4 separate regions of the Homo sapiens genome follow, and regions 2, 3 and 4 are each linked to region 1. The links come from fine-mapping of genetic effects on gene expression. A gene starts in region 1. Each other region holds a variant in brackets. All regions are shown on one strand. Distances are from middle to middle.

What was found.
Region 2: its variant is fine-mapped to the expression of HERC6 in whole blood (TOPMed, PIP above 0.99).
Region 3: its variant is fine-mapped to the expression of HERC6 in whole blood (TOPMed, PIP above 0.99).
Region 4: its variant is fine-mapped to the expression of HERC6 in fibroblasts (GTEx, PIP above 0.99).

Annotation. Positions count from the first base shown.
Region 1 is chr4:88,374,607-88,382,916 of GRCh38, reverse strand. HERC6 (HECT and RLD domain containing E3 ubiquitin protein ligase family member 6) reads right to left here and starts at 4,065. Exons shown (of 23, transcript NM_017912.4): 1 at 3,797-4,065. The coding sequence starts at 3,995. RefSeq lists enhancers at 1-236, 3,313-3,642 and a silencer at 3,653-3,842.
Region 2 is chr4:88,495,590-88,503,899 of GRCh38, reverse strand. HERC5 (HECT and RLD domain containing E3 ubiquitin protein ligase 5) reads right to left here. Exons shown (of 23, transcript NM_016323.4): 19 at 3,908-3,974; 20 at 2,915-2,985. Among named protein-coding and RNA genes, the nearest start is that of PIGY, 24 kb to the left of the region's middle. The variant TA/A (reference allele first, on the strand shown) is at 3,822.
Region 3 is chr4:88,445,821-88,454,130 of GRCh38, reverse strand. The region is part of intron 1 of LOC102723458 (a long non-coding RNA gene); the gene reads left to right. Among named protein-coding and RNA genes, the nearest start is that of HERC5, 7.1 kb to the left of the region's middle. The variant AT/T (reference allele first, on the strand shown) is at 3,281.
Region 4 is chr4:88,659,575-88,667,884 of GRCh38, reverse strand. It overlaps HERC3 (HECT and RLD domain containing E3 ubiquitin protein ligase 3), which reads right to left. Exons shown (of 26, transcript NM_014606.3): 11 at 5,330-5,454; 12 at 3,673-3,732; 13 at 397-508. Among named protein-coding and RNA genes, the nearest start is that of NAP1L5, 34 kb to the left of the region's middle. RefSeq lists an enhancer at 2,711-3,910. The variant G/A (reference allele first, on the strand shown) is at 4,534.

The sequences.
Region 1 (8,310 bases):
GATCATAGCCTAGGAAAATGAAACTTAAGGTTAACCAATCAGAAACCACCAACTAACATCTAACTAGAGACTTTACCAACCAGAAACTGCTGACTACTTCAAACAAGGGACTTTCCACTTTAACCAATCAAGTATTTTCTTTGTCTTGCTTCCTGGAACACGTTATCAAAGGTTCCCCCTGGCATCTCCTTGCACCTCCCTTAGTGGAGCCCAACTGCTTGAGGTCTGGTGCTGCTCAATTCATGAACTGCTGAATGTTCAAATTGACTCTTAAAAACATTCAATTACCCAAGTCTATCTTTTAATGGCTGTTATTTAAAGGAGTAGGCATCACGGAGGGGGTAACTTCTAGGGACTATGACACATGACCAAATGTTTCTCTAGCAAAACCTAGCAAAATAAAGAGACCCAGAAAAAAGTTGGGATCTCCTCCATTTTGCTATTCTGTCTTCCCACCCTAAACACTGAAAGCAGTGAATCCCTTGCTCAGAAGGAAATTGGAAGGGAGCCTACCTCATGAGTGTGAGAGGCAGATGCTGGATCCTCTTACAATGAAAAGTGAAAAATATGCCCCTATGGAGGCCCTAAATATGCCCACAAATGAAAACCGGATCACATTTCCCTACAAGCCAACCTAAACTGCTTTCCCAAGGTGTCTGTCTCTGAATTATTAGAGGTTTGGAGTTGAGAACATCATACCAGTAAAGTTTTTGCAACATTTAAGATTTTGTTTTTCCTTTTATCTTTGTAATCTTATCTTTTTCAACTATTTACTGTCAATTTATGCAAGGTTAAAATTTCCCAAAGATTCATGCACTCACAAAGATAGAAATTGGTACCATTTTTCTAGAGAACAATTTGGGGTTAAGTATCATGTTGCCCTTCATTTCCAAATGAGGGTGATAAGACCTGAAAACATGCTACTTTAAGAATTTGAGCTGAAGGCAATTGAGAATCAACAGATGCAGGAAGAGGTCTCTGCTCTCTTCTTATCTACCTAAAAGTAGGTCATAAATATCCTTTTGTGAGAAGCTCCCATCTCTGGCACCAAGAAAAGGGTCAGCCGGGCGCAGTGGCTCATAACTGTAATCCCAGCACTTTGGGAGGCCGAGGCGGGTGGATCACGAGGTCAGGAGTTTGAGACCAGCCTGACCAACATAGTGAAACCCCGTCTCTACTAAAAATATAAAAATTAGCTGGGCATGGTGGTGAGTGCCTGTAATCCCTGCTACTTGGGAGGCTGAGGCAGAAGAACCGTTTGAACTGGGGAGGCGGAGGTTGCAGTGAGCCGAGATAGTGCCATTGCACTACAGCCTGGTGACAGGGCAAAACCCCATCTCAAAAAAAAAAAAAAAAAAAAAAGAAGAGAAGGGTCACCTAAGATGAAGACTTGGCACTGAGGTGAGCCTGCATAAACAAGTCAATTAAAATAACCCTTATCTTCCATTAGATTTTCCCATATATTTTCTAGTCACTTTCCCTGAGTTCATCATCCTTTAAAGTCCAAACCCCCTTTTCTTTGTTAAACATGGTACACAAGCTCCTAAGTCGAAGCACTTGAGTTTCACTTCTATTCTGTAAATTCCCACGCATGTAAATTCCCCTATATGTAAAAGATTAATAAAATTGTATGCTTTTTCTCCTGTCAATCTGTCTTTTGTCAGTTAAGTTTGCAGGACCCAGCCGCTGAACCTAAGAGGGTAGAGGAAAAATTTTCCTCCTCCACACACCTTTTGAAACTATTCTCAGCAGGTCATCAAAAATGTAGTCAAATATTTGCTTACGAGAATATCAATCAGTATTATTTATAAAAGCCCCTAGTGGGAAACAATCTAATTTCCACAAAAAGAGAATAATTATGGTACTCTCAGAGTTTAGAATGTTATGCAGCAATTTAAAACATATTTTCAAAACATACAAAATGAAAGGGTAATATGTTCATAAGATTATGCTTGATGAAAACACAATGTACAGAGTTGCATAAATACTGCATATACAAATCTATAATGACATGATTTTTATAAAGATTAAATATGTACATAGAAAAAAGTAGACAAGGAGAAAATGCATCAAAATGTTAGGAGTTATCTTTGGGTGTTGGAGCTACGGTGATTGCTTTCTCGTATTTCTACAATAATCCATAACGATTATTGTATTATCTCACATATATAATATATATATTTATTATTATTATGTTTTTTGAGACAGAGTCTTGCTCTGTTGCCAGGCTGGAGTGCAGTGTCGCGATTTCGGCTCACTGCAACCTCTGCCTCCCGGGTTCAAGCGATTCCCCTGCCTCAGCCTCCCAAGTAGCTGGGACTACAGGCGCCCGCCACCACGCCCAGTTTATTTTTTGTATTTTAGTAGAGATGGGGTTTCATCATATTGGCCAGGGTGGTCTCGATTTCCTGACCTCGTGCTCCGCCCGCCTCGGCCTCCCAAAGTGCTGGGATCACAGGCGTAAGCCACCGCGTCCGGCCTATTATGTGTATATATATATATTTATATATTATATATATATATTTATATATTATATATATATATTTATATATTATATATATATTTATATTATATATATATTTATATATTATATATATATTTATATATTATATATATATTTATATATTATATATTTATATATTATATATATTTATATATTATATATTTATATATTATATATATTTATATATTATATATTTATATATTATATATATATTTATATTATATATATATTTATATATTATATATATATTTATATATTATATATATTTATATATTATATATATTTATATATTATATATATTTATATATTATATATATATTTATATATTATATATATTTATATATTATATATATTTATATATTATATATATATTTATATATTATATATATTTATATATTATATATATTTATATATTATATATATATTTATATATTATATATATTTATATATTATATATATTTATATATTATATATATATTTATATATTATATATATTTATATATTATATATATTTATATATTATATATATATTTATATATTATATATATTTATATGCTATATATATATTTATATATTATATATATTTATATGTTATATATATATTTATATATTATATATATTTATATGTTATATATATATTTATATATTATATATATTTATATGTTATATATTTATATATTTATATATTATATATATTTATATATTATATATTTATATATTATATATTTGTATATATTTATATATTATATATATTTATATATTTTATATATATATTTTTATATATATATATTTTTTAATGCCCCAGTGTATTTCTAAGGGAGATACAGGTGTCTGACCCACAAACCACGTTTGTAAGGTCAGGCTGCCTTCTCCAGGTAGAACCGCGCAGGCGAGGATTTATCTGCAAGGCAAGCCGGAGGGACCACATCTCTTTCCAGAGCAGCGCTGACCAGGTTAGTTTCGGCTCTCAGTTTCGCTTTGAACTTGAATTGGAAACCGAAACAAATCCGAGGGGCGTTGGGAAAACGAAACTGAGGAAGTTGCTCTTCGGTAGCACAGGGCACCATTTTCCTGGTTCCTGTGGCTCTTCGGGCCCCGAGGAATCCAAGGCTCCCAGCACCCCTCCCTGCCTGGCCCGCGGCGCCCAGCATCTGAGCCGCTCCCTGCACCTGGGCCCCCGCGCCCCTCACCCGGGTCCCAGCGCTCCGCACCCGGTTCCCTGCGCCCGGTACCCAAGCCCCCGCGCCCATGTACTGGGGTCCTCACACCCTGCACCTGGGGCCCCCCGCTCACCTGGCAGCTCCCCGCGCTGCGCGCCCCTGCGGCCCAGCTGACCCCTGCTGTTGTCTCCGCACGAGAGGACCCTGTGGTTGGTCAGCAGCAGCAGAGAGTGGCGCTCCCCGCTGGCCGCCTGCAGTAGCTCAGCCCCGGGGCTGCCCGCCGTCCTCCGGCGCTGCAGCTCCCTGGAGTCGGCGCCCCAACAGAAGTACATCCCGCTTCTGCGCCCTGTCGCCTGCTCCGGATTCCGTCGGTCCCGCTGCGACAGGCTCCCGAACGCTGGTGACTGGGTGCGCGATGATTTCCTGAATATCAAGAGACTCACCCTGTCTTCAACCCGCCCCAGGGGCGCAGCCCTGGCCCCATGTCAACTCTCGCTGCCTGAACTTCAAGTGCTGAAGAGCAGAGAGGGCGTCCCAGGGAATAAAACTGAGTTTACATCCTAAGCCATTTATGAGTCGTGAATGCCACTTTGGGCAAGTTACCTAATGATTCCGTGCTTCAGCTATCATATCTACGAAATATGGACTGCAATTCAGCAAATCTAATATGTCGGGATAATTTAATAGGCACATAAAGTGTTAGAATAATACCTAGAGTGGTTAATAAAGCATCTGAGTGCCCACCTCATTCCAGACCTTTTTTGGCATTGAAAATATGTTTGTTTTTTGTTTGTTTGTTTGTTTGTTTGTTTGAGATGGAGTGTCGCTCTGCTGCTCAGGCTGGAGTGCAGTGGCACCATCTCGGCTCACTGCAACCTCCACCTCACGGGTTCAAGCTGATTCTCTTGCCTCGGCCTCCCGAGTAGGTGGGATTACAGGCATGCGCCACGACGCCCGACTTAATTTTTGTATTTTTAGTAAAGATGGGGTTTCACCATGTTGGCCAGGCTGGTCTCGAACTCCTGACCTCAAGTGATCCACCCCTCAGCTTTCCAAAGTGCAGGGATTACAGGCGTGAGCCTCTGGGCCCCGCCTGAAAATACAATTAGTGAAAGACAAGATCCTCTTGATGCGTTTACATTCTCCTGAGGGAAAGAGAACATAAACAGATAAACACATAGTGTAATATCAAGGGGCAACGAAAAATACAACAGGAACCAGAGGGTGGAGGCGGAAGGCACTGGTATTTGAGATGATATTAGGGAAGATCTCTCTGATGAAGTGATATTTGTGCAGAGAGCTGAGGGGACATGGGAAATGAGGGAATGAGTCGTGATCACACCTGAGGGCAGAGGATGAAAAGAAGCAGTTGGAAGGTTTTGAATAGAGAAGAGCCATGATCTGACTTCAGTTTTTAAAGATTCATCTGGCTGCTGTGTGAAAAATAATAGGACAAAAATGGAAGCAGAAAGCCAGTTAGCAGAGACTACTTCAGAGTTCAGGTCAGGTGATATCCTAGAAGGGAAGAGAGGAGAAGTTATTAGATTCAAGACATGTTTTGAAAGTAAGAGTCCACAGATTTGATGATGGATTAGAAATTGGGGGGAAAGAAGAAAAGGGATTAGGGATTACTCCAGGGTTGGCTTTAGGGGTTACTCCAAGGTAAACTCTACTGGACTGGGAAACCCTGAGGAAGGTGCAGGTTTAAGCTATGTGTGTCTGGAATACAGATTGGTAATGATAACTGTAAGATGCTTGTTAATCAAGAAGGCAATAGGATAAACTGTTTTGGAGTTGTAGAGAGAAGCTTGGGTGTAGTCAGAAAATTGGGAGCCATCAGTGTAGAGGTGATGCTTAAAGCCAGATGGCTGAATGAGAACACCCAGGGGGTGAATGTGGTGACAGTATAGCAGAGGCTAGAGGACTGATCATAGGAGGAAAACCAGGAGGAGGAGTTATAGACAGAGCAAGTAACGAATAAAGGAAGGATCAACTCTGTCAATTTCTTGTGGAGCAAGGTAAGGATTGAGCACTGATTTTTATTTATTTATTTGTTTGTTTGTTTGAGATAGAGTTTCCGCTCTTGATGCCCAGGCTGGAGTGCAATGGCGTGATCTCAACTCACAGCAACCTCCGCCTCCCAGGTTCAAGCAATCCTCCCGCCTTAGCCTCCCAAGTAGCGGGACTACAGGCACGTGCCACTACGCCCAGCTAACTTTTGTATTTTTTGAAGAGATGGGGTTTCATCATGTTGCCCAGGCTGGTCTTGAACTCCTGACCTCAGATGATCTGCCTACCTCAGCCTTCCAAAGTGCTGTGATTATAGGCCACCATGTCCCGCTGAGCACTGGTTTTTAGATTTGGTAACTTTGATAATGTTAGCCATCATCAGCATTATTGATTTTTTTTTAAAAGAAACTATTACAGAACCTATTTATGTAATTTCAATTCACCACTCTTCATGACCATGTTTCAAGTTCTTTAAAGAGAAGAACAAATGTTCTTTATTTTTCTACCTCAAGAGTACCTGGAACTTGGTAGATGCTAATAAGGGTATGTCGGACAATTGGATTGATGAGTAGTGAGTCAGTGGATAGTATTAGTATTTCTGGTTCTGTTTTGCTGTATACCAAATATAACCTTTTTCTGAATAGTAATTTCTTAATGTTTATTTCTTTTCTCAAGCACAAAATGTAGGAGTTTGGTATTATTACCATAAGATACTGAGCCCTCAAATTAAGTTATTTCTTTAAAAAAAAATTTTTTTTTGAGACAGAGTCTCGCTTTGCCACCCAGGCTGGAGTGTAGTGGCACGATCTCAGCTCACTGCAACCTCCACCTCCCCGATTCAAGCGATTCTCCTGCCTCAGCCTCCTGAACAGCTCAGATTACAGGCGGGCACTATCACACCTGGCTAATTTTTGTATTTTTCGTAGAGATAGGGTTTCACCATGTTGGCCAGGCTGATCTCGAACTTCTAACCTCAAGTGATCCGCCTGCCTCAGCCTCCCAAAGTGCTGGGATTACAGGCGTGAGCCACCACTCTTGGCCTAAAAAATCTTTTATTGATACATAATAGATGCACATGTTTTGGGGGTACATATGATAATTTGACACATTATCAAATTGGGATATCTATCGCCTTAAATAATTTATCTTGGGCTAGGCACAGTGGCTCATGCCTATAATCCTAGCACTTTAGGAGGCCGAGATGGGAGGATCGCTTGAGCTCAGGAGTTGGAGACCAGCCTGGGCAACATGGTGAAACCCCATCTTTACAAAAAATAGCTGGGTGCAGTGGCACATACCTGTAGTCCCAGCTACGTGGGAGGCTGAGGTGGGAGGATTGCTTGAGCCCGGAGCCTGGGAGGTGGAAGGTGCAGTGAGCCCAGATCGTGCCACTGCACTCCAGCCTGGGCGACAGAGCCAGACCCTATCTCAAAAAAAAAAAAAAAAAAAAAAGGAACATTCAAATTATTATTGGCTAGTGGTTTTGAAATGTACCTATAGTCATTCTACTGAGCTATTGAACCAGGTCTTATTTCTTCTATCCAACTGTATATTTGTACCCATTAATCAACCTCTCTTCATTTTCCTCACCCCTACCCCTACTCTTCCTGGACTCTGGTTACCAACAATGTACTCCTTATCTTCATGAGATTCACTTTTTTTTTTTTTACTCTCTGACATATGAGTGAAAACACGTGATAATTGTCTTTCTGTGCTTGGCTTATTTCATTAACATAATGACCATTCCACCCATGTTGCTGCAGAAATGACAGAATTCCATTCTTTTTTTATGGCTGAACAATATTTCATTATGTATATGTACCACATTTTCTTTATCCATTCATCTATTGATGGGCACTTAGCCTGATTCCAAATTTGGGCTATTGTGAATAGTACTGCAGTAAATGTGGGAGTGCAGATGTCTCTTTGATATATTGATTTCCTTTCTTTTGTATATACACAGAGTAGTGAAATTGCTGAATCATATGGTATTTCTATTTTTAGTTTTTTGAGGAACCTCCATACTGTTCTCCATAGTGGCTGTACTAATTTACATTCCCACCAACAATGTATGAAATGTACATCAACAGTGTACGTTTCTTTACATCCTCACCTGCATTCCTTATTCCCTATCTTTTGGTAAAAGCCATTCTAGCTGTGGTGAGATGATATCTCATGGTTTTGATTTGCATTTCTATGAAGATTAGTGATGTTGAGCATTTTTTCTTATACTTGTTGGCCATTTGTATGTCTGCTTTTGAGAAATGTCCATTCAGATCATTTGCCCTTTTAAAATCAGATTTTTTTTTTTGCTGTTCAGTTATCTGAGCTTCTTATAATAATATGGTTATTAATCCCTTGTCAGACAGATAGTTTACAAATATTTTTCTCCCATTCTGTGGGTTGTCTCTTCACTTTGTTGAGTTTCCTTTGCTGTGGAGAAGCTTTTTCGCTTAATGTAATCTCACTGGTCTATTTTTGCTTTTGTTTCCTGTGTTTTTGAGATCTTCCACAAAATTTTTTGCCCAGAGCAATGTCCCAAAGCATTTCCCCAATGTTTTCTTCTAGTAGTTTCACATCTTATATTGTCTTTAATTAACTTTGATTTGATTTTTGTATATGGGTCTAGTTTCTTTC
Region 2 (8,310 bases), 120 kb before region 1:
AGAGATGGGGTTTTACCATGTTGGCCAGGCTGCTCTCAAACTCCTGACCTTGTGATTTGCCTGCCTCGGCCTCCCAAAGTGCTGGGATTACAGACGTTAGCCACCGCACCTGGCCCTAATGTAATTTTTATAACAACTCCATCATATGCTGCTTATAACATATATAACTTAAATGTGAAAACACAGATTAAAGTCAAAGAAGGGAAAAAGATACACTATGCAAACATCAACCAAAATGAATGTGGTGTAACTATACTAAAATCAGACAAACAAGACAAGGATAGAAAAGTACATTTACTAATGACAACCGAGTCATATACCAGGAAGGTAAAACAATTCAAAAATCTGTTATGTGCTTAGTAATAACGAAACTTAAAGAAACACTCATATCCACATGTATAGTATAGATGCTAATATACCTCTCCTAGTAACTAACAGAAAAGCAGACAAAAAAATTTTTAAGGACAGAGAAGATTCAAATACAATAAATGATCCAAGAAACCTATTTAGAATATTGCAACAAGATCTCTACATAGAAAACTACCTAACATTTTTTCAAGAATGACAAAAGACGATTTAAACAAATGGAGATTCTGTATTCATGGATTAAAGCCTCATTATTTTAAGATGTCAATTTTTTCAAAAAATTGATCTATAGGTTCAGTATAATCAGTTTCAAAAATTGAAAAAATAAAACCTGATCCATACCTTGCATCTTACTAAAAAATCAATTAAAGTGGATCATAGATCTAAATGTGAGAAATAAAATGATAAGCTTCTAGAAGAAAATACAGGGGAATATATTCATAGCCCTAGGATAGGGAAGTATTCATAAAATAGAAAACAGAAAAACACTATGCATTAAGGAAAATATTGATAAAGTAGACTACATTACAATTACAAATTTTGGTTAATCAAAAGACACATTTAAAAAGTGAAAAGACAAGCCACAGTATGTAAGAAGATATCTGCAGTACATATAACCAACAAAAGACTTGCATCTAGAACTCTCATAAACTGACAAGAAAAAAAAAAGCAACAGAAAAATAGACTAAAGATGAGGAATAATTATTTCTGAAAAGAGGATATCCAAACAGCCAATAAGCATATAAAGTGCTTAACATTAGTAATCAGAGAAATGCAAATTAAAACCACAATGGAATACTACTATATACCCACCAGAATGGCTAATTTAAAAAAGACTAGTAATACTATTAGAGTGGATATAGAGCAATTAGAACTGTCGTACCCTACTGATGAAAGTGTGCCTCCATTTTTTATGTTTGCTTACTAACAGCTTTCAAGTCCCACTCCTCCTTTTTCCCCTTTCGCCTCCAAATCTGCACAACACAGGCTCACTCCCTGGGCACCCACTGATGGCTGCGTGGCTTAAATTTCCCCACGCATGCTCTGGGTTGCATGAGAACCCTGACCCTGGCCCCACGGAACCACCATAAAAACTAAAGCCACCTGCCTCTCTCTTCACTTAAGCCAAACAGATCAGCTTGGATGCCTGTGCAGCTCTCCCCAAAAAGCCCCATTATGTACTAAACATTTTCATACTCTCTGGCTTACATATGGCATCATCCATATCAATATCCAAATGAATTTCAGGTAGGAGCATTGATTCTGCCTGCATGGAGCAAGGGGCAACCACAAGGCACCAAGCACTTCTCCCAGTTACATACCAACAGAAATGCCTGCACATAAACAAAACACATGTACAAGAATGTTCACAAGAGCATTATTCATAATAGTCCAAAACTTGAAATACACTATGTCGGTCAAAAATACTACAGATAGGCCGGGCGCAGTGGCTCACGCCTGTAATCCCAGCACTTTGGGAGGCCAAGGTGGGTGGATCATGAGGTCAGGAGATGGAGACCATCCTGGCTAACACGGTGAAACCCTGTCTCTACTAAAAATACAAAAAATTAGTTGGGCGTGGTGGCGGGCGCCTGTAGTCCCAGCTACTCAGGAGGCTGAGGCAGGAGAATCGCTTGAACCCGGGAGGCGGAGGTTGCAGTGAGCCAAGATTGCGCCACTGCACTCCAGCCTGGGTGACAGAGCGAGGTGCCATCTCAAAAGAAAAAAAAAATTCTACAGATAAATAAACTGTGATATATTCATACAATACACAACTATATAGCTGGAAATGTTATATTTCTTGATCTGGCAGTAATTACATAGGCATGTTTGCTTTGTGAAATTCACTAAACTGTACATTTATGACTTGTGCAAAATTCTGTTATATAGGTTATACTTCAATACAAAGTTTAAAAAAAAAGATTAAGAAATCGTGGAAAAAGATGTGATGTAGGCCAGCACGCTTCCTAGAGATCTCTTTGCCACTCTGACCAACTATCAAGGGAAGGTTCTATAATTCCAAACTCCATGGCTTTAAATGGCATTCCATTAGATGTTGGGAAGTCAAAATATCATAGTAACCTTTTCAACAAATACTTACTATGTGCCTGCAATGTATCAGGCACCACTGTAGACTACTCTAGGTACTGAATATACAGCGGTGAAGAATACATACCAAGTCCCTGCCGCATTCACTATCATTGGAGAAACAATGAGAAATAAATAAGCAAATAAACCCTAAAGGTAGGTAATGTGTGATATGAAAAGAAAAAGCAGAACGAGTGGATAAAGAGGGACAGATGTTGGTGTTGTAATTTTGGACAGGAGGAAATAGAAAGGTCTCTCTGAGAAAGCCATTTCCATTCCTTACCACAATATAAACTCCATGATATATATGTCAAAACACATACAACACACACCAACTTCTCTGCCTTAGTGAAAAATGATTAATGAGAATGAAAAATTAAAGAGCTAAAAGGAATTTTTAGAGCTCAGTAAAATAAAAATAGTACATATACAAACCAACTATTTCATTTTTTGTACCTACTTGTTAGTCTGGTTGACAGTTATGCTACTTCCATTAGGAATTAAGTTTGTGTCGTTTCTGTCCCAGTGCACCTGTAACCGCAAATGAACTCAGATAATATCTCCAACATAATTCTGAACAATCTATCATCAATAAAAACACTTTGGAGCATACTTTCTAAAAAGAATGTGTTAAAATGTACATTTTTGTCATAAAAGCTAGCAAGGAATGTACAAACAAAAAATTACACCCTATCATACTGAATAAAAATAAATTTTTTCAAAGCTTGAATTCTCTTATTTTAACTGATCAAATTAAACAAATTAATTGGAAAATTGCTACATCTCAGTATTCACTTCATACAGCATAGACCCAGTATGGTAGATTTACAAAAATGGCCATGAATTCTTCCCATCCTAGTTCTCCTGCCCCTTTGCCTAGTGGCTTTGCAACACTTGCAATCAAGGGGAGAGGCTATCTCTTCAGCCACTGAATCTCGGCATGGCCATGTGAGGTACTTTATTTAGCCAATGGGATCTGACAGAAGCAGAAGCATGTGTGGTGGGGCTTGCTATCGCTTCCTCTCTGTAACCCTAAGGCCACCATGTGAAGAATAAAGACTGCAGTCTTGCTTCAAAAGCCTCAGCTAGCCTATTGGAGAATGAAAGACCACAGGGAACAGAGACAAGCTGTTCCAGCTGATACCCTATAACCCAACCAGCCTGCCAGTGACTGGGCATGTGAGTGATACCACTGTAGACCATCCAGCCTGGCCAAGTCGGCCCAGTTCAGAAACCCACAAAATTGTATTTGTTCTTTTAGGGCACTAGGTTTTAGGGTTGGCTGTTACATAGTAAAATCTAACTGATGCACCTAGATCATGATGAAGAACAATACCTTTTTCACTAATTTATTCAGGTTTTTTTTT[TA/A]AGTAAAAGTTGACATGTTTAGTTAAATATGTAAAGGGTTAATCAGATTAAAACTAATCTGTTATCTGCTTTTATTGTTACTCACATTAAAATGGATGTAAAATACTTCCTCAAAGTTATCACCTTCATCATCCAGAAGTGTTTGCAAATTCCTAAGGAAAAAATAATCTTGCTTTTAAAAAGGTAATAACCATGATCACTAGACACAGCATCTAAAATAAATGTCAAGTGTATAGCTATTCTGAAGGTATGAGGTCAGGTATAGTTCACAGCACCTCTTTCTCTGCGTACTGATAGTCTAAACAGGGCCAGACCTCAACTAAACATGTCAAATTTAAGAAGCTTGTCTGCATTTCTGCAGGCTGCCTGCCTGCTTCACAGCTCTTGTTCCTTTACCTTAAATTCCCTACCTAATGATTGTAGGTTTCTATTTAGAAAAGGATTCTAACGTTCACTGATAGTGAATTCATTCAAACTGGTGTTACCTTTATTGAAGCTTTTGAACTTTACTTACAGAATAGGTCTCATATTAAATTTCAGGTATCAGTAACTCTGAGGTGGGTCAAAGGACCTTCTCTGCACCTCTTGTCCCAATATCATCAAGCTTAAGAAACACCTGAAATTAGACTACCTTAATAATTTCAGGGCATTTGTGAGAATAGAGGTCACATCAAAATGGACAGTAACCAATTTTTAAATTATTTCCATCCTATCATCCTATGATGCTTTATACATGCTTTTGAAATAACACATCTCATTGTATTTGCTCATTCACTCAAATATTTATTTAACAAACATTTAAGTAGCCCCTACTATAGCAGGCATAGGGGATGTAAAGTTGAGACTAAGATATCACTGCCAATACTCTGGGACTTGAAGGTGAGGTATGCTGATGGGAGTCTCACCTACAATACAGTGAGGTATGTGCAGCCAGAGAACTATGGAAATCACACAGGTATAGGCTTAAAAGAGCACAGTTAAATTTTTCTGAAGGGATACATGACATTGGGAAAGGCCTCTGGGATAAGGTGGAATCTGAACTGATTTTTTTTCCCCACTGGGTTTTTAAATTACTGTATTGTGAAGTAACAGACCATGTTTTATTCATTGTGGGTTGTTTTTGTTTTTGTGGGGAAGGCGGTGAACTGTTCTCCAGCTGTGATCCTGTGAAATCGAACAAGTTACCTGCTTCTAAAATACAATGGTAGGCCAGGTACAGTGGCTCACGCCTGTAATCCCAGCAATTTGGGAGGCCGAGGCGGGTGGATCACTTGAGGTCAAGAGTTTGAGACCAGCCTGGCCAACATGACAAAACCTCATCTTTACTAAAAATACAAAAATTAGCCAGGCATGGTGGCATGTGCCAGTAATTCCAGTTACTCAGGAGGCTGAGGGACGAGAATCGCTTGAACCTGGGAGGTGGAGGTTGCAGTGAGCCCAGATTGCACCACTGCACTCCAGCCTGGGCCACAGAGTGAGACTCTGTCTCAAAATAAATAAATTAAATAAAATACAACAGTGGAACAGGCATAGGATAGACATTCCCATTTCAAAAGGGAATAACAGAAATAAGAAAGGGGTAATAGGTCCCAACTAAGTCCAAAACTCAAAATGGCATGCAACATTAAATCTTAAGGCTTGAGAATAATCTTTGACTCAATGTCCCACTTTCAGGACACACTGGGTTTGGGGTTGGGCTCCTAAGTTTCCAGGCAGCCCTACACCCATGACTTTGCTGGGCAAAGCCCACCCCTAGAGGCTCTCACACATTAGTGTTGGGTGCTTTTGATTCTCCCTCAGGCTGGAACTGCACACTGGTGGCTCTTCTCGGGTCTCTAGAGCAGCCTCACTCCCATGACTCCACTAGGCATTGCCTTAGTGGGGGCTCTCTGCAGTTGCCTCAACCCTGTGCCAGTTCTCTGCCTGGACCCCATGGCTCTGTGGAGTATCCTTTGATATCTAGGTGGGAGAAGCCAAGGCCCCACAGCTTGTGCACTCTGTGCCAGCAGAGATGGCACAGCCACTGTGACCACACCACACCTGGGGCCACTGGAGTCACACCTGGGTCAGCTGAGGAGCACTGTGCCAGAATGCAATGAGTAGGGACTTGAGGCAGCGCTGGACATCAAATGTCCAGGTCCTGTGGGCACACAAAGCCACTCTTGACATAGTTCTGTCCTCCAGGCCTTGGCACTCAGGGCCTATGATGGGAGTGACAGCCCCCAGTGATCTCTGAAATGCCTTTGGGATCATTCTTCCATTGTCGTGATGAATAGCACCAGGCTTCCACCCATCCACACTAACCTCTTTATTAATAAAAAGAGTCACCTGGCCATACCCTTGGTGCTCTCTTCCAAACACGTTTGCATTCTTTACAACATGGCCAGCCTGAGAATTTCCAAATCTTTAAGTTTGGCTTTTTTTCTAATGATAAATTCCACTTTAAATAATTCTCCCTGCTTGCATTTTGGTATAAGCAGTCAAGAAAAGCCATATTGTTCCTTTACCACTTTGCTTAGAGATTGCTTCTGCCAAATATCCTATTTCATTGTTAAGAATCTGACTTTCCACAAAACACTAGGATACAACAGAATTCAGCCACATTCTCTGCCACTTTATATAGTAACAAGGAGCACCTCTCCTCCAATTTCCAATGTGTTCCTCACTTCCATCTGAGACCTCATCAGAATTGCCTTTATTGTCTACGTTTCTACTAACATTCTGATCATGACCACTTAGGTAATCTCTAAGAAGACCAAGGCTTTCTCTAGAGGTCTCCTCTTCTTCTGAGCCCTTGCCAGAACTGCTCTATAGGGCAATACATGATTTTTCTAGCATGTGCCTCAAAACTCTTCCACTACTTACTAATTACCTAGTTCCAAAGTTGCTTCCAACACCACACTTCTTGGTAGCAATTTCCCTTAGTCCATTTACGCTGCCATAACAAAATACCTTAGACTGGGTAATCTATAAATAGAAATTTATTGCTCACGGTTCTGGAGGCTTGGAAGTACAAGATCAAAGTGCCAGCAGATTCGGTGTCTGAATCTAAAGGGAATAGGTGACGACCCATTCCTTTTCAATGGTGTCCTCTGTGTCCTCTCATGGTGGAAGGGGCGAACAGGCTCCCTTGGGCCTCTTTCATAGGGGAATGAATTCTACTCATGAGGGCTCCACACTGGGGATGAGGCTTCAAAATATGAATTTTGTGGGGGACACATTCAGACCCTGACAACACCTTCCCTTTTGCATTTTTCTAACACCCTCTTGATGAAGAAAGAAGTTCTTTAATCTTATTGCAATTAAATGTATTAAATCTTTTCTTTACTGTTGGTACACTGCATGTCTTGTTTAAGAAATCTCAAAGGTGAGAAAGATCATTCTCCTGTATTTTCATGATTTTTGCATTTAATATCTAAATCCTTCATCCACATGGAGGTGATTATCATGTATGGCATAAGACAAAGATCTACTTTCATTTTTTTCCCCAGATAGATATCATTTTTTTCCAGTTCCATTTATTGAGTAGTACTGCTATTCCCCTTGATCAAATATGTCACCTCTAATAAAGTTCCACATAGGCATGGGTCCATTTCTGAGCTCTATCGTCTGTTCTATCGGAAAACCTGCACCAATATCATACATCATACTGTCCTGACTAATACAGCTTTCTAATAATTCTTGATAGCTGACAGACCAAGTTCTCCATCCTTATTTGCCTTAAGAATTATTTCTGGCTATTCTTGACCCTTTGTTCATCCATATAAATTTTAGAACCAGGTTGTGAAGTTTAATAAAAAGCCTCCTGGGATTAAAATTGAGTTTTACTGAACACAGAGATCACTGGTTCTCAAAATGTGAGCCAGACCAGCAATTCTTGGGAATCCTTGGGCCTTTACAGAGTTCATGAGGTCAAAACTATTTTCATAACATTATTAAGATGTTATTTGCCTATTTTCACATTCTGCTGTGAGTAAACAGAAGAGTTTTCATGAGGCTATATGATATTGTGGAATGCTCTGCTAACAGATATTTGTGTATTCCTGTGTTTAAAATATTTAATTTCTAATCCCGTAAATATTGACAGATGTAACCAACCTAACTAAAAGCGCTTTGGAGTCCTCAATATTTTTAAGAGAATCTTAAGACCTAAAAGTTTGAGAAACAATGATACAAATTTAAAGATCTTTTAGTTCATGTACATTGTTAATTATCAGTCTTTTGAGGCATAATTATTATTTAGGTTATCTTCGATGTTTCCAGTAAAATAATAATGACAAATTTATCTCCTTCTTTCTAAATCTTGTGCTTTTGATTTTTTTTTCCTTGTCTTATTAGTACAGTTAGTATAAACGATTAATAGACTCTGGAGCCAGACTGTGTTCAGATCATCGTTCTGCCATTATGGGGCCTTGAGCAAGTTACCTAATCTTTCTGTGTTTTAGTTTCTGAATCTGTAAAAGAGGGATGATAATAATACTAGAATCA
Region 3 (8,310 bases), 71 kb before region 1:
CTTGATTCATCACTTTATTATTTATCCAAACATTTTTCAACTAATTCTCTTTTTTTAAATTGTAAATTGGCAATTTATAATTGTATACATTTATGGGGAACAAAGTGATCTTATAATTTATGAATAACAATGTGGAATAATTAAATCAAGCTAGTTCCCACATCCATCACCTCAAATACTTAACAATTTTTGTGGTGAAAACATTTGAAATTTTATCTCTTCGGTATTTTGAAAAGTGCAATACTGTATTGTTAATTATATTTACCACACTGTGCAATCGAACTCAAAAAAAAAAGAATGAACACATTCATCTCGTTTCTGGGTTAAGTGTTCTGATGGTGAGGTGTCCAGGTCTTGGCACATTGAACAAAGAATTGAACAACACACATGAACAAGCGGTGAAGGAGTGAATTTATGAAAGTGGAAGATAGTGGGCCGGGCGCAGTGGCTCACACCTGTAATCCCAGCACTTTGGGAGGCCGAGACGGGCGGATCACGAGGTCAGGACATCGAGACCATCCTGGCTAACGCGGTGAAACCCCGTCTCTACTAAAAATACAAAAAAATTAGCTGGGTGTGGTGGCGGGCGCCTGTAGTCCCAGCTACTTGGGAGGCTGAGGCAGGAGAATGGCGTGAACCCAGGAGGCGGAGCTTTCAGTGAGCCGAGATCGCGCCACGGCACTCCAACCTGGGCAACAGAGCCAGACTCCCTCTCAAAAAAAAAAGAAAGTGGAAGACAGTGAAGGATCAAAGGCAAAAGTACATTCCACAGGGTGGGAGCGGGCTCAAGCAAGTGATTCAAGAGCCCTGGTAGCAAAGTCTTCTGGGGCTTCAGTACCCTTTAGAGGTTTCTTGTGGGTTACATCCTATGTAAATGAAGGACTGGCTTGTGACCAATTCCACGCCAAGGTGAATTGGCCCATGGCCAATCCAAGACTGGTGTGTTTTGGTGCCTTATGCAAATGAAGGGCCTGGAATAGACCAATCACTGGCCAGAGTGCAGGTACCGGCCTGTGGCCAATCAGAGCCTGATGTGGTTTGGCACCTTATGCAAATGAAGGTCCTGGAATGGACCAATCATAGGTCAGTGTGCAGACTCTTCAGCTCCAGGGAGTCTGTCCAAGTTATCCTTAGATTCCCTATCTCTGGATCCTATTCTCCTGCCTCATTTTCCCCCTGAGAGACATGATCCCTAGAAATCTTTATGGGAGGCAGAGGGACTGATGGTCTTTTCTTTTGTAACTGCTTCCTGCTGATTTAGCACGCTGGCCTTACCTGCTGGGGACCACAGAACTCTCGCCCTGCTTTGTCTTGTGGAGACAGAGTAACCTTTTGACGGCCAGAGGTGGTGCCTTTACCTGGCACTGGCTGGAAACCTTGTCGCACAATCATCTGAAGCTAAATGGTTTCTAGGCAAGAGAAAATGAACTTGGTTAAAAGGTTTAGCAAACATGGGCCAAAGACCAGGGCCAGTATAACCATTAGCAACGGTCTGGCTAGGGGATGGAACCATGACACCCAGCCCAGCACCTTGACCAGGAGCCCCATGATTCCGACAGCTGTTGTATCTTAGCGGCCTGGTCAGCTAGTTTTCAGGTGGCATCCCTTACTATTCCTGATTGGTTGACATAGAAACAGCATTCTTCCTCTAGGAAAAGACATAAGCCTCCCTTCTCAGTGGTTATGAGGTCTAGTCCCCTTCTATTTTGCAAAGTGACCACTGCCAGGGAGCCTATTTGATTTTGTCTGATGACAATACTTTGAGCAATGTCATCCAAGATTTCCATGAAATCAATGGACAAGCCCTGGTAGTAGGATAGGGAAGTTGCCAGCCCGTTAACTCCTGTTCCTATTCCTGCTGTTACTCCCAGCTCTACTAAAAGGGGTATGAGTTGGATGGCTTGCTTGTGTCTGGTGGTTGCAGTCAAAGATACAGTGAGAGATTGGTTATCGGGAGCTATATTAATTTCAGGGGCTAAATAAACAAGTATACAAGTTCCAGTCCAATTGGCAGGTAAACGTAAGTAGGAGCTGGTCCTGCACAGGAAAAATGCTCCCCGTTTTTCAAGACAGAAATTGTTTTCTATGGTGAACATATGGGTTAGTTTGTTATTTTTGCTTTCCCAAGTAGTTAAGGTCCCTGCTAAGGTGGCCCCTGTTGACGACGGGAAGGGGCCTTGCAAAGTTGGGTTGCCCCAGTGGTTTTATTTTCCCAGTGGAGGTAGCTGCTCTTGGCGTCCACCAACAACCACCTGGGAGTATTTTCATAATGGAGAACCAAAAGACAGCTAGAGGTGAATTTCAGGGCTAATGCAGTCTTCCCAAGGAAAAGTGTGGACACAGCTAGGGGGCTTCCCTTAACAGTACTTAGACCGAATATGTTTTAAGATGCCCTTAACTAGGAATGGTTTCCGTGAAAACCATACAGGTTTTCTAAATCATGTAGTTTGGGTAGTTGTGTAATTTACATGATTGTGTGAGGGATTAATCTCCAGAGTGTAGTTGCACTGATTACTCTTCAAGGTCCCCAGGACCTGACTGGACTTTTGGCTCCTTTTGACACAGAGTGTACCTGGAATTCTAGCTCTGTGTGTGTTGATATTGGGCCCTAGATGGGCTTTTCTGAGGATGTAACCCTAGAGAGGTTGCTCTGATAGGACTGCAGGAGGTTTACTGCTCGTCCTGTCATTGTAACCTTTGTCATGTCTGTAATTTGGTTGTATAAGTCATCTAAGTTTATTAGTTTGAAGAGAGTTCCTCCTTTGTAGGCAGGGTGATAAGTCATTTTTTCAAGGGCCCAATATCGTGCTGGGACTGGGATAGCAGTGTACCTGGAGGAGTATGGGGATAAGCAAAGCCAACAATGTTTTTACTAAGGCTAGGCTGGCAGCCAGGCACAGTGGCTCATGCCTCTAATCCCAGCACTTTGGGAGGCCTAGGCGAGCAGATCACTTGAGGTCAGGAGTTCAAGACCAGCCTGGCCAACATGGTGAAAGCCTGTCTCTACTAAAAAATACCCAAAAAACAAAAACAAAAAAACAAGGCTTGGCTGGTGGTGTTTAACAGTCTTTGTGTTAGATTCAAGGTTCTTAGTAAATACTGAGGGTCACCTAATGGTCAGAGGGTAAATCAAGGCCCTGCTGTAGAATTAAGCCAATTCCCAATATGCATGATCCCAGTGTGTGTGGCCTATAGCAAATCATTGTGGGTATGAATGTACCTTTTTGTTATTTTGCTTCCTTTAAGTCCTACAGGATAGGATTCTACTAGGGCAGAGGAA[AT/T]GATCCTACCTGCTTGGGAAAAGGCAGTTTAATAATGTAAGAAAAACTAGTATTACCCCAACTACCACGAACACACAGAAAAGACACCAAGGAAAGTTAGTAGGCCTTTACTTATCTTTTAGCCATTCTTTTAAACAGGTATTTCAGGTCTTCCACAGGTTCACAGGTATAGTGGCTGGTGGGAGTTCCACGTTCGGGGTCCGGGAACTTCTGGTATGGCAGGCTTGATGCTGGAAAGATGTATCCAATTATCTAACCCTAGTACCTTGACCATGGAAGGTGTGGCCAGCACCACTGAAAATGGTTCCTTCCATTTGGGTTGTAGCTGTTGAGCAGATGATTCCTCTTTCCATGTTTTCACCGGTACCTTACCTCCTGGCCTAATTTTGGGTTGCTGGTTAGTTCCCAGTACAGGGAACCACTGGGTTCCAAACTTTTGTAAATCCTGCTGAAATTGTCCCAGGTTAATTAGGTATTTTACTAAACTGGTTGTTTCTGGATCAGTGATTAGATCATTAGTTAAAGATGGCCTTGCATATAATATTTCATATGGGCTTAGATTAATTTTTGCTTGAGGGGAATTACGGATCCTTAAGAGGGATGTGGGGAGCAAGTCAACCCAAGTCTCTGACATCTCCTGGCACAGTTTAACTAATGCCCATTTTAGAGTTTGATTAGCCTTTTCTACTTTCCTGGAGGATGGAGGCCTCCATGCTGAATGTAAATTTGATCCTGAGGGCCTTAGCAACCCCTTGAGTTATTTGGGAGACAAAAGATAAGCTGTTATTTTGAAGGCTCTGGGGTAGCCCAAACCAAGGGATTATTTCTCTTTCTTTCTTTCTTTCTTTTTTTTTTTTTTTTGAGGCAGAGCCTCACTCTGTTGCCCAGGCTGGAGTGCAGTGTGCTTGGCTCACTGCAGCCCCACCTCCTTGTTTCAAATGATTCCTGTGCCGCAGCCTCCTGAGTAGCTGGGATTACAGGCATGCACCATCGTGCCCAGATAATTTTTTTTTTTTTTTTTCGTAGAGACAGGGTTTCGCCATGTTGCCCAGGCTGGGCTTGAACTTCTGGCTCAGTGATCTGCCTGCCTCAGCTTTCCAAGGTATTGGGATTACAGGTGTGAGACATCGTCCCTAGCCAGATTATTTCTTTTAAGAGAATTTTCACTACTTCATTGGCCTTTTCTGTTCTGGAAGGGTAAGCTTCAACCCAGCTAATAAAGGTTTCTATCAGTACTAGTAAAAACTTGAATCCTTTACAGGCTGGCATATGGGTAAAGTCCAATTGCCAGTCTTACCCTGGGTAAGTTCTCCCTCTTTGGATTGGCTCTGTTAAAGGAGGCACTTTGTTTCCTGGGTTGTTTAATGCACACAGTGAGCAGGCTTGACAGACCTGTTTGGCCATGGAAGCTAGGTTGGATCCAGTGAAGAGCTTGTTTGCCATGGCCAAAGTTGTGTCTCTTCCCACATGGAAAGAGTTATGCAGGGCTTTTATGATTTTCCATTGGGCTGCTTGGGGAAGATTTATTTTTGATCCCTTATACCACCAAGATCCCTGTTTCATTCCTCCTTGTTGTCTTATTAGATGTTCTTCCTGTGAGGTGTACTCAGGTTCTATTGGGGGGTCATAAAAAAGGAGTAGTGCTAAAACTTGTTGAGACTGTACCTTGAGGGCTGCTGCCTTGGATTCCTTTTTGTTCCCTTGTGCTATAGGAGTTAGATTCTTTTGTTGCCCTTTGCAATGAATAATGGCTATGGCCTCTGGCAAATGTTGTCTGCAATAGCTGAAGAATCCCATGTTTTATGGGGGAGTGCTTGCTAGTAAGTAGTCTCCTTTCCAAATTGCAGCATTAGCATGAACCACAAGAAATGCATATTTAGAATCTGCATAGATGTTAGCTTTCTTTCCTTGTCCCAACCTTTATTTATTTATTTATTTATTTTGAGACAGAGTTTTGCTCTGTCGCCCAGGCTGGAGTGCAGTGGTGGTACGATCTCAGCTCACTGAAACCTCCACCTCCCAGGTTCAAGCAATTCTCCTGCCTCAGCCTCCCAAGTAGCTGGGACTACAGGCACACACCACCATGCCCGGCTAATTTTTGTATTTCTAGTAGAGACGGGGTTTCACCATATTGGTCAGGCTGGTCTTGAACTCCTGACCTCAGGTGATCCACTTGCCTCGGCCTCCCAAAGTGCTGGGATTGCAGGCGTGAGCCACTGCGCCAGCCTCTTGTCCCAACCTTAATGCTTGAGTAAGAACAATGATCTCAGCCTTTGTGTCAATGTGCCTGGGGGCAGTAGCTGGACTTCAAAAATGGTGTAATTCACTATTGCATATCCAGCTTGGTGCTCCCTGTTTAGCACAAAGCTGCTGCCGTCTATAAACCAGTTATCCACAGGGTCTGGAAGAGGCTGTTCTAAAAGATAAAAGAGGCTGGCTCCCATATCTGTGTACAATGATTTGCTCACAGGAATGATTGGTTATGGTGCCCATAGGTAGCAGTGCAGCTGATGATATGGTTTGGCTGTGTCCCCACCCATATCTCATCTTGAACTGTAGCTCCCATAATTTCCATGTGTCATGGGAGGGACCCTGTTCCCAGAACCAAGCTGGGTCTGGCTGCGTTTTCTCAAGGCCCAATAAGGAGAAGCAGACAAACTAGGAAAGAATGGAATTTATTGATATAACTGGATACAGGGAGAAGGCCAGAGATAATTCCACCAGACCAACCCAAAGTGTTACAATTTTCTTAGTGCATGTATAGGTTGGGGTTATGTGCCTACGTGCAGTATAGCATTCACCTAAGTCTATTTGTAGCTAATTTTGTTTCAACTAGAAGGACAGAAGCAAAAAATGCTTGCTAAGTTTGATTAAAAGGGCCCCAGAACCTTCAAGGCCTGTCTACTGTGGTACCAGAGTGATTATTTCTATCTTATCTCCTTTGCAGCTTGGTCCAGAGAGCTGCCTTAGACTCTCTAATGAATCTATTCACACAGCTGCCACCATTACCTTGAACTGTCTCAGATTCCGTCAACCCGAGATGGGTCCTAGCACTAGGAATGTAAGACTGTCTCTATTATTTTGACTTGCTCCGGGTTAGGGAGAAACCTACTGACCATATGACATATGTTTCATTTCTAGCTTTGATGTCTGGGCACCAGTTTCCCTAGGCTTAACTATTTGCTAAATGTTAAGGCAGTGCTGTGGAAATCTGTCAGTGTAACTGGAGTGCTATACAGGCCTGTCTGTGTGATTGTCAGGGAGAATTGGCCTGCCACAACCCAGTGGGAGGTAATTGAATCATGGGGGTGGGTCTTTCCCGTGCTGTTCTCATGATAGTGAATCAGTCTCACTAGATCTGATGGTTTTATAAAGGAGAGTTCCCCAGCACACACTGTCTTGCCTGCTGCCATGTAAGACATTACTTTGCTTCTCCTTTGCCTTCCACTAGCCATGATTGTGAGGCCTCCCCAGTCATGTGGAACTGTGAGTCAGTTAAACCTCTTTCCTTTATAAATTACCCAGTCTCAGGTATGTCTTTACTAGCAGCATGAGAACAGACTAATAGAGCTGGGTTTAAGGTGTTACAGGTCTTAATTGTGATCTCTGGATTATCTAGGAGTGCCACCTCGTATTTAATCTTTCTCCTGTCATCCAGATATGTCCTTTTATTTCTAGGACTGGTGGGGAGTTGTGGCTGGTCTAGAGTAATTTTTGTTTATTTATTTATTTGTTTATTTTTGAGGCGGAGTTTTGCTCTTGTTGCCCAGGCTGGAGTGCAATGGTGCGATCTGGGCTCACCATAACCTCCGCCTCCCGGGTTCAAGCAATTCTCCTGCCTCATCCTCCCAAGTAGCTGGTATTACAGGCATGTGCCAGCACCCCCGGCTAATTTTGTATTTTTAGTAGAGACAGGGTTTCTCCATGTTGGTCAGGCTGGTCTCCAACTCCCGACCTCAGGTGATCCGCCCACCTTGGCCTCCCAAAGTGGTGGGATTACAGGCATGAGCCACCACACCTGGCCAGCCTATAGTAATTTTAATAGCTTCTTCAACCAAAATAGCAGTGGCTGCTATTGCCTGCAGGCAGCTGGGCCACCTGGTGGCTACTGTCTTATTTCTTTGAAAAGTATGCAACAACTGGGCACAGTAACGCACGCCTGTAATTCCAACATTTTGGGAGGCCAAGGTGGGTGGATTGCTTGAGATCAGGAATTCAAGACCACCCTGGCCAACATGGTGAAACCCGGTCTCTATTAAAATACAAAAATCTGCTGGGGCATGGTGGTGACAGGCACCTGTAATCCCAGCTAGTTGGGAGTCTGAGGCAGGAGAATGACTTGAATCCAGGAGCTGGAGGTTGCAGTGAACCAAGATTGTGCCAGTGTACTCCAGCCTGGGAGACAGAACAAGACTCCATCTCAAAAAAAAGAAAAGTATGCAATGGGCCTAGGCTCTGTTCTCAACTTCTGAGTAAGCACTCCCACAGCTATGCCTTTCTTTTCTGCTACATACAGGAAGGGCTTGGTGAGGTTTGGAATGCTGAGTGCACGAGCCTGGCTGAGAGCCCGTTTTAACTTGGTGAAAGTCTCCCTCATTTCTAGGGTTCATTCCATTGGCTCATCTTAAGGTCCCCTTGTTGCCTTGTAAAGGGGCTTTGCTATGTGCCCGAAATTTGGGATTTGTATCCTATAGAATTCAGCCATTCCAAGTGAAGCTGCTGCTTGGCCTGTGAATTAATTTTGGTGCCCATGACATCCAGAGTTACCCAGGGATCCTAAGTGGTAGTGATGATGTCCCTGGGTCCCATGAGTCTTCATCTGATCCCTCCTTATGTGCTGCTAGAGTTTTGACTGATGGAGCCCCTTGGTGGGAGCAGGGGCAGTCAATTATCCAGTGCCAGAGGTCACGACTGGTGCCCTCACATTGGCAGCACAGGCCCTGCGTGGGCTTAGTGCAGTACTTTGCCTAGTGCCCACTTTTCTTGCACTTGTAACCAGAGCTTTTGCCGGCATTGTCCTTGGGACCCT
Region 4 (8,310 bases), 280 kb before region 1:
AGGGAAAAGAGTAATGAGAAATTCAAACATACTTGAGATCTAGTTAACTTTCTCTAAGTTCATAAGCTATTTGATAGACTCTCAACTCTCATTCATTCACTATGCACTGAGAACCTACTATGAGCCTGACACTGGTCTAGGCCCTCAGTACACATCCATGAAAAGAAAAGCCAAAGATCCCTGCCAGTGCAAACTGTATATTCTAGAGGGGCATTGCCTTGGAAAGGTTTAAGCCAAAAGAAAGCAAAAGGTAGGTCTAATTCCCAGAGTAAATACTTTACAAAATTAAGATTTGGAGACTTTCACTTTTTCATCTTACTCTTTTTCTCTTGAAGTTGAATTCATCGATACAAAAATGCATTTTTAAGAATGCACTTTACAAATATAGAAACATACCTGTTCTAGAATCATGGAGTGCTGAGAGTTCATTAACTTCTCAAATAACACCCTAGTTGAGTTCAGGTCAATCCCAGGGATTTTGGGACTCGTTTTAAAATGTTCATCAATTCTAAACAAACAAAATCAAAAAGGTATATAATAAAAGAAAAAGCAAACACTCTGATAGGAATTATAAACAAGTAAAATACTGTGTTCTTAGTAATCAGATTTAAATTTGATCTGGCAGATAAGATCCACAAAAATACTACACTTTGCATAAATCTCAAAATAATAAACCCAAAATACAGAATATTATTCTTTCACAAAGAATAAACCACACTGGAATTCCTTTTACAAGAATTTTCAAATTTTTAAATCTGTTTTCCTTCAAGTCAAAGTACAAGGACTGTCATATCAAGTTAAGGCTATCTTGAAGTTTATAAACAAATAATTATTTCCCTGATTTCATCTTGTGTTTTTTGGTTTTTTTCTGTTTTTGTGGCTCATTGAACTAGATGTAGATGCTGTGGCTTGGTACAAATAACGTCCCCTGTGCAAACTGGTCCACTCATCAACAAATGACAGTAGAACTTCCTTGTTGAAAGCCTTTCTTACCAAAGTATTTAAAATAAAAATGATCTATAGTAAATGCAAAGTTAATGTCTCTCATCGTTAACACAAAGGATACAATTACATTCACCCAAGGACTAATTTCATTGCCACTATTTTTAACTTTCTAGCAACTAAATCATTTTTTTAACCTTAAATAAAATCTTAGCATTTTTGAGACTTAGAGAATATCTCATATATCCTGCTCTTGAACATACCACATTTGTTAATTTACAAAAGAGCTATCTATTTGCAAAGCAGGCTTCTGTTTTTGAGTAATGGACACATTCAGATGATTTTAATACACTCTGACAGCAATGTTATAATTTTTGAAAACATAAGAGTTTCTAACATTTTTTAAAAATCATAATTATATGTATCGGAACCCTATGCTCAAATGAAGATAAATTGCTTGTACTTTGTTTTTTGGGTCTTTCGTTGTTGTTGTTATTGTTTTTAAAATAAATCTGCCCAAAATATAGAAATGAATTCTGGTTTCCCATATGTAATTTTCCATATGCTTTTTGCTATGCTGTTGAGAAAACAAAAACAAAATGTTTTATCTATACGTATTTATTGCTTTGTAAATCTGGTCTTCATTTTGATTGGTTTCCTGAGATGCATCCTATGTACGCTACAGGAGTAGACTTTCTGAAATACACAGATGTCAGTTTGAAAAAAAATAAAAGGCTTTCCCCACAACTCTATACGAAATCTGTGATACTAAGGATGAACAACCTAACAAGTCTGGCCAAGAGCCCTTCCCAAATGTCATGAAAGCTATCCATCTAGAACGGGGTTTCTCAACCTTGGTACTATTGACTTTTGGGACCAGAGGATTCTTTGCTGGGCAGGTGGGAATGAAGGATGTTTAGCAGCATCGCTGGGTTCTACCCACTGGATGCCAATAGCAAGTCCCTCCCCATTGTACCAACCAAAAATGTTACCAGAAATTGCCAAATGTCCTTTGGGGAGCAAAATCACCCTGGTTGAGAACCCCTGTTCTGGAAGGCCAACATCAGCATAATCCAGAATATCTTTCCCTAGAGGAAAAAACTAATTACTAAATATGAAATGAATTGTGTGAGCTCATCCCAGCTGCCTTAATTATAAAAGTAAATGACTTTATAATCTCTAAATGTAACCAAAGAGAGTTTCTGAAGTGACCTCCTGCAACCCAGTTAGGGACTCATTTGTGGGGAGGGGGTGGTGATGGTTGAATTTAGGAGTCAACATGACTAGATTAAGGAATACCCAGATAGCTGGTAAAGTATTATTTCTGGGTATGTCTGGGTCAGTTTTCTGTAAGAGATTGGCATTTGAATTAGTGACTAAGTAAAGAAAATCCATCCTCATTCAGTGTGGGTAGGCACCGCCCAGTCAGCTGAAAGCCCAGAACAAAAAGGCAGAGCAAAGACAAATTATTTCTCTCTTCTGGAACTAGGACATCCTTCTTCTCCTGCCCTTGTACATCAGAACTCCAGGTTCTGTGGTCTTTGCACTCCAATACTTACACCAGCAGCCCCCACCCATTTCTCAGGCCTTCAGCCTCAGACTGAGAGTTACACCATCAGCTTCCCTGGTTCTCAGGCCTTTGGACTTATACTAAGCTATGATGCTGGCTCGCCTGGTTCTCCAGATTACAGATGCCTATGGCAGGATCTCTCAACCTCCATAATCAGGTGAACCAATTCCCGTAGTAAATCCCCTCTCTTCCTCTCCCTCTCTCTAGATACATCCATCTATCTATTTATCTCTCTCCTATTTGTTCCATTTCTCTGAAGAACCTTGAGTAACACAGGGCTCGAGGGGTAGGGGTGGGATTCACACACAGAAATGAAGTCTAATTCATCTTGAGATCTCATATAGCCTGGTCACTGGCAGAAAGGACTGAGAAATAATTAGGACTTGGGATTACCAAAGATCCAAACCCATGACAAGACTCTTTTGCTGCATCAGGTTCCTGAGGGAGATATTTGCAGAAGGGATAAGGCTAAGCAAATAAACATTCTATTTACTACTGGGGAGTTCAACCTCAAATATAATTCTCTGGTGAGCTGGGCTGGACCTAAATCCAAGGAGCCCCTGAAGCCTCCTTAGAATTACTCCCTGAAATTCACTCCTTTTGAGAGAAAAAAATAAAAAATAATAAAAATTTTAAAACTGTGGGAAAGCAAACCAAAGAAATCAAGAAAATTATCTGAGGAATTAAGAATTTAGAATTATGACACATCTTAGAATACTCTGAAAATCTTACTGATGATTCTACCAATTATTTCTGAGATACAGTCTCTCTCGGTAATCTGCTTTTCTGCCATCCAGGTATGAATCAGCATTGCTCTTCCTGAAATCCTCTCATTACCATTATTAGGCTTTCCAATTTTTGCGCAAAGCATCAGCTTACTCATTAAATTAAGGCCAACCACCATCAAAGAGAAGAAAAGTCTTTCACAGCCTTTGCTGAGTAAGTATTTGCATCACATGTGGGGTTTTAAGAAACTTTTTTTAAAAAGATGGGGCCTCACTATGTTGTCCAGGCTGGAATTCAGTGGCTATTCACAGGCATGATCACAGCATCCTAAAGCCCCAAACTCCTAAACTCAAGCAATCCTCCTGTGTCAGCCTTCCAAATAGCTTGAGACTACAGGTACACGTGAGGGTTTTTTAAGGCTCTAAGTCACTTACTTTTTTTCAAGAAAACTTCCATTCCAACAGGCTGCAGAAGATAATATCTGAACAACACCACTGCTCAAAGAAAAGAAGGGAGGGGGAAGCCTTTAATAATTACAAATAAATGGTTATTTAAGCATCAATAATAAAGTAACCATCTACTCAAGGATTTCATTAATAGCAGCTCTTTGTCAGCTGAAGCTTTGGAAAATGTACATTTGCTTTAGAAAAACAGGATGTCACATCTCAAAATGAAGAAGAACTTAAGTTTCCCATGTTAGGGGAAAAAAAAGAATATCAAAGCTCCTGAAAGAAAACCTCTTGTCCCAATAATGTTCTTGAATATTTTTCTACCACCAACCATCTAAGAAGTGCCCTATCTAAACTCCAAAGAGAAACACAGAATAAAACCAAAAAAGAGAAGCCAAGCTGTTACTTCCCGAACACAGAAATTATCTTGGCAAATTAATAACTGAAAAATTACTTCTATTTTGCTGCATATCTGAGACATAAATTAAAAAATAGTGAAACAAGTGCTTATTCCCATTACCTTCTATTATACAGGCTCTGAGGAAACAGCTAATTCTGAGGGCCCAAAATGAAACTGGACATCAGGAACCCTGGGCCTTTCCATTCAGTGTAAGGAAAAGGGAAAGAATAACACAAATATACAGCTGGGGAGGGGATTACAGTAGTTTCTGTTAATCACAGAATTTAGATCAGGAAAGATCTTTAAAGATCATGTCTTCCATCCATTCATTTTATAAATAAGAAAACAGAGAACTAATGGTAAAGTGTCACCATTTCCCTTGCTGGACCCCAGCAAGCCCTCATCTCCTCTCCCCTGCGACCCTTCAGCCTGAGCTCCTTGGCAGA[G/A]CCATCCTAAGGTTAGAGGGATTCTGAAGACTGCCACAGAGCTGCTCTAGGGCGTTTCTAATGCTCTCTCACTCACAACGTTACTAGCTCAAGTGCCTCAAAGTGTAGCGTCCTGGTCATTTGGCCCACTACAATCTATGTCATAATGCAGGAACCATTATGTACGTTTCTGGGAATAACCACAACTTAGTGCACAGAGCTTGATTTATTCTTCCCAAGAATCAGACTTTGCAGAAAAAAGTGGAGAGGCTGAGGAAAGCCAATGAAAATGTGTAAAAATGTGCAAAGGAAAATTGTCCTTTAAATTTGATAAAAGCTCTCAATCCTACTTACTGTTGTTTTTTTTTTTTTCTACATGACTCTGAATTACCATCTCAATCATTATGAATAGGAAAATGCTAGAAATTATTAAGATTAGGTAAGATAACAGCTGTCTCAGATTTGGGATGTTTTGGAACATGCATACACTAAAACCCATGGGAGTTAACCATAACGCTAAGCTCTCTTAGCAGAATCACCAACTCAGGCCTTCATCAGTCAGGATTTTTAAGATCATACAATAAACAAGGCAGGTTGAGGCATATACTGTGTGTGAGAATTGGGGATCCATCCATTATGCTATTTGGGGCTAAGGAGATCAACCCTGAAATAGTAACCAAAAATAACCCACGATTCCCTATAATGTAAAACCCCATTTACATTCACAGTATCAATATGCAAGTACGGAAAATCACACTAAGCTAAAAAGTTGTAACATACTTTGTGGAAAAAAAAATGAAGACAAGCAGCCACATACTTGATTGTATTTGCATTGTTGTGTTCTGAGAGTTTTTGTCTCCAAACTGCTATGGTTTCATCATTTATTAAACTGGTATAATGTGCTTGGTTCATAGTCCTGAAGTCAACAGCAGGAGAATAATTCTGGAGAATTAAATGTAACAGTAAAAAGAAGAAATTATGTAGCATGGATCTTGTCTCCTCTCCTTTCTCCCACATATTCTCCATTTTACGTTTCACTTATGATCTAAATGCTGCAGTGTGCCGCCCAGATCCCCTCCACCCTTCAGAATGGAGGCTCCTGACAGATCCCAGCTGGGTTGCTGTCCAGGACTTGGCATTGACTGTTGCTTCACTATCACATCCAATGGCAGGTAGAGGCATGGTGTAAAGGTCCAGCCCGCTTGCCTCAACTCAGGACTGGCTGAAGGACCATCACAACTTCAGTGCTCCTCATGGGACTGGCTGAGGCCTCTGTTATAACTGAATTGCATTTCAACCCCTCCCTCTGCGCAATCCTGCCTCCTTCATCCCTCAGTAGATGTTCTTCTAGAAAGCACTCTCCCAAAAACCTTTGAGTCTCGGGTCTGTTTCCCAGAGAAACCAACTCAGTACAACTTTCCCAGACTTCTTTCCCCTTTGCTTTGAATCACTGTAACAGCAGGTTTTTAAGGTATTAGTCATCTGCCATAAATGTCCACCAAACTTCAACAAAATGTATTACAAAAGAGCCAGAGTTCAGTTATAATCTATATGACAAATAACCTATAAAAACAATGACTCTTAATTTCTTGCTTCAAGTATATAGCTATTATAAGAAAAATGGCAGAAAAAGATGTTAATAATGTATGTCCTTGAAAATTCCAAATGTTGCCCAACACTGTACATCTTTTATTCAGTGAGATTAAAGAAAAAAAACATAATAAGCACTTTCCTTTTCTAAAATTGCTTGTTTTCAACTTATTTTCCCCAAGCCTTGTTCTTGATCGAGAACTAAGGAAAGGTTGATGGTGCTTTATACTCCTATTCTCGTCTCCAGTGAAGAGGAAAAAGGTAATATTAAAGCACTCATTCATCAGCTCATGAGATTTTTTTTCTCCTTTGTACCTACACATAAAAACATAACTTTCAAAGTAAATTTTCTTGGTTACTTTCCCATAGCTTCAAGTTAACGTATCATTATGGTAGGAAGGAGTAGAGCATGTAATAAAACAGAGATGCCTGACAAAGTTTGTGATCATCTGGTTATTGATAACTATTCTACTAAAATGGCCACAGATATCTATTGAGAGAACAAAAATCATCTTGAAGTACAACATACAGGAAACTCATAATCCAAAGCAGATGCTGGAGTACACACAGAGATTGTCTTTCCACCTCCTTGTAAAACCACTGTTGTTACGTAAATTTTATTTATTTCCCCCATTCAAAGGGGCAGCTGAACATCAACTCTAACACAAACCTACAATAAAATAAAGACTTGGAACTATTTTATCATTCCTCATCATATGTCCAATAAACCAGAGATGCCTTGGGTGAAGTACAAGTTCAGAATCACTTAAAGAACCAAGAAAAAACATCATTCTTCCTGTCTTTAATACATACAGGCAAAAAAGGAAAAATTGCTCTTAGGTCAGTGTTTCTCAACTTTGGCTGGACTTTGAATCACCATGGGAGCGTTCAATAATCCTGATGACCAAGTCATACTCCAGACCAATTAAATCAGAATCTCTAGAGTCATCAGTATTTTGTAGAGCTCCCAGGTGATTCCAGTAGGCAGCCAAGGTTAAGAATCACTGTTCCAGGAAAAAGAAGATTATGAGATAGACACACACACAAACACACACACATGCACACACAATTCTAACAATCCCAACCACATTCCCTCTTCAATTCTATCCAGGGAACAAAACGACAGGAAAAGGAGATGCTATGGTTTACATTCACTAAATTCCCAAGACCTAGAATCAGTGTAGCAAAGGGGTATCTGAATATAACTCCTTCCCTCCCTTCTTTCACCTAAGGCCTGGCAGTAATGAATGAGTCAGCCTTTTATAAAAATAGAGGCTATGGCCGGGCGTGGTGGATCACGCCTGTAATCCTAGCACTTTGGGAGGCCGAGGAGGGTAGATCACTTGAGGTCAGGAGTTCAAAACCAGCCTGGCCAACATGGTGAAACTGGTCTCTACTAAAAATACAAAAAAAATTACCCAGGCATGGTAGCGGACGCCTGTAATCCCAGCTACTCAGAAGGCTGAGGCAGGAGAATCGCTTGAAACCAGGAGGTGGAGGTTGCAGTGAGCCGGGATCACGCCATTGTACCCCAGCCTGGGCGACAAAGCAAGACTCCATCTCAAAAAAAAAAAAATAGAGGCTGTAACTATACAGGTGCTTTTTCTTGGTTCTTTAAGTGATATGGTAACAGGGTAAGCATATGATTTGATCAGCCTCTGTATCTAAATAATCATCTCTGGTTAATAGTTTAAGTAAATGTGCATAGGTTTCAGTTTCAAAAGAAAGAGCAACATCTTCTTAAGTAATGTTTACTTTCCTTTTTCTTTGTGATCTTACACTTTTCATGCATACCTATCCCTCTTTCCAGTTGTTTAAACTTTAACCTGCCCTGCCTCTCTAATAGTATGCTACTTCACTTCCTTCTCATCAGTGTGTTGTTTTCCAGGCCCAAGGTGTTGATTACAATAATAAAAATCAGTTACATATATCAGATACTATATTTACAAGAGAAAACTAAATTTCATGTTAAATTTCACAGGAAAATTAAAGTTGGATACTATTGAATAACACTATTCAATACTAGTTTCTAGGGGAAATAAATACTTAAAACTCTATTACTTATGGACAAAAACTGATTATCCTCCACAGAGTCAGTGCCTTTTGTATTTTGTTTTATTGACATCTTGAAGAAACAAAGAAAAACCTCAGCTTCCTCAGGATTTCTCTGTAATACACACTCTGAGGCTGGGTCTAAAATAAGTCTAG